2 linked regions of the Homo sapiens genome follow. The protein of the gene in region 2 purifies or fractionates together with the protein of the main gene of each other region. This does not show direct contact. Each region holds a gene or a part of one and is shown on either strand. Other genes may lie near its edges. The genes, in order: WDR73 and INTS9.

Region 1 (3,811 bases), on a different chromosome or scaffold from region 2:
GATAAGCTCCCCATGGTCTGGACTGATTTTGTCTTTTCTGAATAGATTGCTGGTTACCAGTGGCCTTCCAGGTTGTTATCTGCAGGTGTGGCAGGTTGCAGAGGACAGTGGTGAGTGAATTTGACTTGATGGGGTTTGGGGTTCTAGGAAAGTGTGACTCATACACCCCTGTCCCCTAATCTGAGCCAGTTAAGAAGGAGACTCAGGCTGGGGACAGTCTCATGCCTGTAATTGTAGCACTTTGGGAGGCTGAGCTGGGTGGATCACTTGAATTCAGGAGTTGAAGACCACCTTGTACAACATGGTGAAACCTGTCTCTATTAAAAATACAAAAAATTAGCCGGGCATGGTGGTAGGCACCTGTAATCCCTGCTACTGGGGAGACTGAGGCAGGAGAATTGCTTGAACCTGGGAGGCGGAGGTTACAGTGAGCCGAGATCATGCCACTGCACTCCAGCCTGGGCAACAAGAGCAAAACTCCGTCTCCAAAAAAAAAAGTAGTAGTAGACTCAGAGCCAGGTGGGAATTAATCTACTTTAATGCAGACAAGGTGAATTAGCAACCATAGCATGGCATCCAAGCCCCAAATGGAGCTTCCTGTAACCTGCTCCTGGAATTGAGTTCATCCAGAGAACTACTCTCCCTAGGCAGGGGCAGTGGCAACAGCAGAGCTTAGGCTGCTCAGGTGAGCTCACCTCTTTGGCAGCATTAAGCATATATTAAGAGAAGCCTCAGATGTAGAATACAGAGAGGAGAACCTCCCTGCTAACCAAGCAGGTGGAGACAACCAAATAAAAACTAAAACTTGGCTGGGCGCAGTGGCTCATGCCTGTAATCCCAGCACTTTGGGAGGCCAAGGTAGGTGGGTCACCTGACCAGGAGTTTGAGCCCAGCCCGAGCAACATGGCGAAACCCCGTCTCTACTAAAAATACAAAAAAATTAGCTGGGCATGAGGGTGCACATCTGTAATTCCAGCTACTCAGGAGGCTGAGGCAGAAGAATTTCTTGAACCTGAGAGGCGGAGGCTGCAGTGAGCTGAGATTGTGCCACTGGACTCCAGCCTGGGCAACAGAGTGAGACTCTGTCTCAAAAAAACAAAAGAACCAAAACAAAACTTGACTCAAAGCCAAGGATGTTCCATTCAGTGTAAAAAAGATGTGGACTTTCTTGTCCACCTTACAAGACAATGACATCTGTAATGTGACCTGTACTTGCTAGGCTTTAGCAAGTCACTCGAGGTCATGGAACATGTTTTTGAAGAAATAATATCAGTTCATGAATTCTGTACCTGTTTCTTGTCGCTGAAGGGGTAAGTGACATCAGCAGCATGTTCATTCCTTTTCTTGTCTTCTACCTGTTCTCCACAAAAGTATAAAAAGCCAGAATTGCTTTTTGGGTTTTGAGATGGCATTGTCTTCCATTTGCAAAAAACAGTTTATAAGACAAATAATAAAGAAATTGAAATGTTTCTGATGGTTTCAAAAATGTAAACATAAGCCAGAGTAGTTATGTCTCAACATCATCTCTTGCCAGCCGGCAGCTCCTTTTCTTCCTTGATCTTCTAAATGTACAGGGGAAGACAGCTGGCAGCCTGTCATGTTTCAAACCTTCATTAAAGTTCTGGATTTTGGCCTCTTCGTTTTCCCCTAGATGTCATTAAAGCTGTCAGCACCATTGCTGTGCATGAGAAAGAGGAGAGTCTCTGGCCTAGGGTGGCCGTCTTCTCCACATTGGCACCCGGAGTCCTCCATGGGGCGAGGCTCCGAAGTCTGCAGGTCGTTGATCTGGAGTCCCGGAAGACCACGTACACCTCAGGTACCGTGGTACTTTGTCCCTTGCTTGCTGCTCCAGCCGGCATCACCCCCCAGCCCAACTCAGCCACTATAAAAACTGAGTTCAACTCTCTGTGCCAGGTGTTGGGGATACACAGTGAATAAGAGGTAAGCCCTGGCCTCTAAGGGCTCCTATGCTGGGGCAGGATTAGGCAGTCCCAGGGACCAGCACCCAACCAGCTGAGCAGACAATGGTGAGATGAGTGGGAAGGGAGATGTGATTTATTCTGCCTGGGACTGGTGGGAAGGGACCTGTGACCAGCCAGCCCTGCCAAATTGCCAGACCCATCTGCCTCCAGCCGCTTGTCTCCTTTGCTGTCGGTCTTCCAGATGTCAGTGACAGTGAGGAGCTGAGTAGCCTGCAGGTCCTAGATGCAGACACCTTTGCCTTCTGCTGTGCTTCAGGCCGGCTGGGGCTTGTTGACACCCGGCAGAAGTGGGCACCGTTGGAGAATCGCAGCCCTGGCCCTGGGTCTGGTGGAGAGAGATGGTGTGCTGAAGTTGGGAGCTGGGGCCAGGGCCCTGGGCCCAGCATTGCCAGCCTTGGCTCAGATGGGCGTCTTTGTCTTCTTGACCCCCGGGATCTCTGCCATCCTGTGAGCTCAGTCCAGTGCCCAGTATCCGTACCTAGCCCTGACCCAGAGCTGCTGCGAGTGACTTGGGCCCCAGGCCTGAAGAATTGCTTGGCCATCTCAGGTACTGCCGAGCAGGATTTCGTCTTGTTATCTGATCTCTTTCTTCCAGGAGACTGTTGGGTGCTCAGGAAGGAGCCTCCAGCACCATGATAAACCTGGCTCCAGGAGTTAAAGTTGCTCACAGAGAAATTCGAACTCTCCAGGTTCTTCAGTGGCAGGCCTTTTCCTACCCTGGCTACTAAACTTCCACACATTGGCAGCAGGCCTTTCCTAGCCTAGCAGGAATTCAGGTCTCAGGTTGGTGGAGGGGCCTGCAGACAGTAAGACACTGGGACAGACATCGGGCTGGGTCAGAAAGAAAAGGGGACAGTGGCTAACACGGTGAAACCCCGTCCCTACTAAAAATACAAAAAATTAGCCAGGCATGGTGGCAGGCGCCTGTAGTCCCAGCTACTTAGGAGGCTGAGGCAGAAGAATGGCGTGAACCTGGGAGGCGGAGCTTGCAGTGAGCTGAGATTGCACCACTGCACTCCAGCCTGGGCAACAGAGCGAGACTGTCTCAAAAAGAAAAAAAAAGAAAAAAAAAAAAAAAGCAGCAGGGACAGCACCTCAAGGGTACTTCTCAGCCTACTTGCCTTTTGAAATGTAGCAAGTTGGCCGGGTGCGGTGGCTCACACCTATAATCCCAGCACTTTGGGAGGTCGAGGCGGGTGGATCACAAGGTCAGGAGATCGAGACCATCGTGGCCAACATGGTGAAACCCCGTCTCTATGAAAATAAAAAAAATTAGCCGGGTGTTTTGGTGCACGCCTGTAGTCCCACCTACTTGGGAGGCTGAGGCAGGGGAATCGCTTGAACCCGGGAGTCAGAGGTTGCAGTGAGCTGAGATGACGCCACTGCACTCCAGACTGGCGACAGAGCAAGACTCTGTCTCAAAAAAAAAAAAAAAAAAAAAAGTAGCAAGCCAGCTAGGTCAGCAGGCCCCTGGTTCTGGTCTGGTGGTAGCTAGTTGCTTGCGGCACTTAATGTGGGTATCTAAAAGCCAACAGGAAGGATCCGTCGAGGCAGGTGGGGGTTGAAAAAAATCATTAAGAGAGCAAGAAAGGATGATTGGAAATGCCAGGATCCAGAAAGAACAGAAGAGCCAAGCTCAGGTAGAGGGGCTGGCTCTTCAGTACCAGGAAGATGGCAGGATGGAATGAGTGTGTGTGCAGCTAGATCGTGCAGGGACGTGAAGGTATTTCTCTCCAAAGGCTTCTGTTTCCCCCATCGAGTAGGAGACAAGGCCATCTGCTGAAAGGGACCCAGAGGTAGGGGACTGGACTCTGGGGCAACTTGAAAAG
Region 2 (3,811 bases):
GATGAAAATCATCAACAAATGCTAAAAATATCAGATACCATTTTGAGGGAGAACAGAATATGTATATAGTTTCAAAGAGTCCCCCACAAGGTACTGATTTAATACAATGGGAAAAACTGACTTCACAGTGGAGAGGCCTGGTACAGACCCGGGAACCTAGAATCAGCTCTGAGTTAACGCCCAGGTGTGAGATGCACCCGGAAGACAAGCGCACGGCCCCGCCTCCAGGCCCGTGAATGGTCTGTAGACTGAGACTGGGATGCTCCCCAGCAGCCCCAGCCCCTCAGACCGGGAAGAGTCCTCGCCCTCTGCTCAGCCTGTCTCCTGAGGGCTGCTGCAGCCTGCTTGGCAGGGAACATTCCCCCAACTCGAGGGAGCTGCCTGCCTTGAGCCAAAAGACCTCGCTCGGTCCTAACTGATGTGACACTTTGATTCCCAGCACAGTCTGTGCCCAGCGACGAGGGACCCTGGCTTAGGCACACCAGACACAGAGACGTCTCCACTGTTGTCAGGACAAACTGGCAGAGCTGCCAGGTACATAAATGCCCATTCCAGTGGATTGTGCTTCTCTGAGAATACTGACCCCCTTTTCATGTATCCAGGAGTCACAAAACAATAAAAAAAGATGGCCCCAACCTCTCCCAGACACAACTTCTGCCCTGGAAGCCCCATAAACCAGTTTAAATGCAAACCCATTACCCAGAGTTGTCACAGGAAATCACACAGTCCTGATTTCCTTTTAGCTGAAGAAACATTTGTACTAAAGGCCAGGTTATCTACTGTGCTGTGTAGATGCTGTCACCACTGTCATGTCAAATGTCGAGTCACCACTCAGCAGCAGGAGCAGGAGACACCAACCTCAGCCCCACTACATAGGACATTCTCTGGACAACCTCCTAATTAATGAAATCTTGGCAGCTATGAAGTTCTGGGTGTTGTCAATCAATATCTTGTGGCCCAACTTCCTCCACCTTTAGCCCAAAGCAGGCCTGAGAAGAGGAAAGCAGTCCTGGTGACCGGGGCCTCTCCTGGCACTTTCTGCCTGGCCTGGTATCAGCAAGAGCCGGCCTGGCACCCACAGCAAAGCCATGTGTCCTCCTGCTGTGTGAACGCAACTTCCTGGAACACCAACACCTTGTCTGACAATGATGGATCCGGCCAAAGACAAGACCCCTCTGTAATCATCCTGAACACGGAACACAGAACTTTCCTGACCACAGCATAAGCAAACTTCCCGCTATGCCGGCTCCATTCTTCCTGTGTTCTAGATAAGAATGAGTTAAGAAACCCATCGCAGAATGACCCTGCATCCTGACGCCACCCAATACAGGGTGACGCCTCACCTCCGCGAACACCTGCGCATCACCGAACACCAGCCGGAGTCCTGCAAGGTCTTTTTGCTTTTCTTTTACCCATGGTGTGTGTTCCCCTTGCTGAAATGAGGCAATAAACCCAACTTGGTTTGACCACAGGCGTGTTCCTGGTGGCCTCTAGGTCACAAATGAAAGCTGGGGGAAGGGCTGAAGCGTCACCCCAGTGCTTCTGGTGTAACTGGATTCCCAGCTCCTAAAGCTAGGAAGGGAGCTGGTGACAGTGCTTTCCCAACAGCCGCCATGTGCCGGGTTCTGTGCCTGGTGCCCAGAGTGACCCACAGAGGTAGCTACTGACAGTCCCATTTACTGTGGGGACAGTCATGCTTGCTGGTGAATTGGCTGAGGTTGCTGCAAGCTGGGCCAGATTTCAAATCAAGGTTTTTTTTTTTTTTTCTTTTTTCTTCATAGCCTGTAAGATTTCTAAAACCCAAGGCCGACTGAAGACCCTAACCCATGGGTGTCCAAGCTTTTGGCTTCTTTGGGCCACACTGGAAGAAGAACTATCTCGTGCCCCACATAAAATACACTAACACTAATGATGACTGATGAGCTAAAAAAAAAAAAAAAAAAAAAAAAAAAAAAAAAAAAAAAGGTCTGTGCATAATTTCCAAGATATCCCCTATCACAGATAAGCAAAAAAGACCTAGCATTCAAAGGGCTGGGCACGCTACACTGATAAAATGATACAGTCATTATCTATGTAAACACTCTACTTGACCTTATCAAAGGAATTTTTTCCCCTGAGGGATTTGTCTCCAGAAGAAAATCCACAGTTAGAGTAAACCACAATCAGAAGAAAAAGATCTACCTCTGTAAACAATTCCTAACAGGTAAAACAACACCGTTACTGAATCACTGCACTTCTTGAAATGGCTTACGATATCCTAGCAAAAGCACTCAGCAGGATTCTGTCTTGGAGAAATCTGAAAACACAGGCATGAAGGCCTCGCTGGATGCCCAGCTGTCCAATGGCACACACTGCTTCACTCTTTCTCTGCGGTTTCTTCATTCTTTGGTACCTACAGTAGAACAATGTTTGTATTTATGTCTCACTGCAAAATCCTTCCCTGGGTCTCTACCTTGTAGGTGCATTCACTCATGGCCTCAGTGGAGAGAACCAATTTGTTTCTTTATTTTTTTCACTTACCCGTGAATATGACGGTATTGAGACTAGATTTTCCCCAGAGCTCCATGAAGTGGACCACGTCCCCGAAGCGGAGGGAAGGGTGCCCGGTGAACACCACACAGGGCTGTCTAAAGTCGTTGCTGAAGTCTCCGTGGATGCTGGGGTAGTGCTTCAGCTTATTGGTCTGAATGAGCTGGAAAATATAGAAAAAATACAAAGAAATGTGAGCCTGCCCAGGCTGAAGGGGGAACCAAAGTACGGGAGGGTGAGCGGGACTGGATCTAAAATACCAACAAAGAAGACAAGCCACGGATTGGGAGAAAATACCTGCAAAAGTCACACCTGAGAGAGGACTGTGACCCAGAATCTATGAACTCCGAAACCTCAGCAAAAAGAAATGAACAGCCCTATTAAAAAGTGGGCAAAAAACCTGAACAGACACCTCATCAGAGAAGAGAGATGGCAAATGAGCATACGAAAAAATGCTCCACACCGTATGTCATTAGGAAACTGCAAATTAAAATGATGAGATACCACTATACACCTGTTATAATAAAATGGCCAAAATCCAGAACACTCACAGCACCAAATGCTGACAAGGATATGGAAGAACAAGGACTCTCATTCACTGCTGGTGGGAATGCAAAAGGATACAGCCACTTTGAAAGATATTTTGAAAAATCATGTCCACAAGAAACCTGCACATGAATGTCCTAATTGCTAAAACGTGGAAACAACCAAGATGTGTCCTTCAGCAGGTGAAGGATGAAACTGATGCATCCAGACAATGGAATATTATTCAGCCCTAAAAAAGAAATGAGCTGCCAAGCTACGAAAAGACATGAAGGAACCTATTCCTAAGTGAAGGGCGCCACTCTGAAAAGCCAAGGCCCCTATGATTCCAACTGTATGACGTTCTGGAAAAGGCAAAACTATACAGATAGTAAAAGGCTCAGCGGTCACCAGGGATTCGTGGAGAGTGAAATGAACAGGCTGAGCACAGAGGATCTGCAGAGTGAGGAAGCTCCTCTGTGTGATGATGTAATGGTGGATCCAGGTCACTGTTCATTTGTTCAAAACCATAGAAAGCACAACGCCAAGGGAACCCCTACTGTAAACTCTGGGCTTTGGGCGAGAGTGACGTGTCAATGTGGGTTCATCAGCCGTAGCAAACGCACCTCTCTGGTGTGGGATGGTGCAGTGGGCAACTGCGTGTGTGGGGCAGGGGCATATGATTGCCGTGAACCTAAAACTGCTGTGAAAAGTAACACTTATTAATTTAAAAAAATACAAGTGAATCTTATTAAAATAG

Evidence for each region.
Region 1: the proteins of INTS9 (region 2) and WDR73 purify together in Homo sapiens (affinity purification with mass spectrometry; one large-scale study listed by BioGRID and IntAct). This does not show direct contact.

The regions. Positions count from the first base shown.
Region 1 is NC_000015.10:84,644,189-84,647,999, reverse strand, and holds part of WDR73 (integrator complex assembly factor WDR73), read left to right. Parts: intron 1-45; coding exon 46-110; intron 111-1,651; coding exon 1,652-1,816; intron 1,817-1,914; exon of another isoform or gene 1,915-2,027; intron 2,028-2,163; coding exon 2,164-2,529; intron 2,530-3,811. UniProt on the Homo sapiens protein: Component of a multiprotein complex required for the assembly of the RNA endonuclease module of the integrator complex. Associates with INTS9 and INTS11 in the cytoplasm, stabilizing the INTS9-INTS11 heterodimer and blocking the active site of INTS11.
Region 2 is NC_000008.11:28,778,303-28,782,113, forward strand, and holds part of INTS9 (integrator complex subunit 9), read right to left. Parts: intron 2,693-3,811; coding exon 2,521-2,692; intron 1-2,520. UniProt on the Homo sapiens protein: Component of the integrator complex, a multiprotein complex that terminates RNA polymerase II (Pol II) transcription in the promoter-proximal region of genes.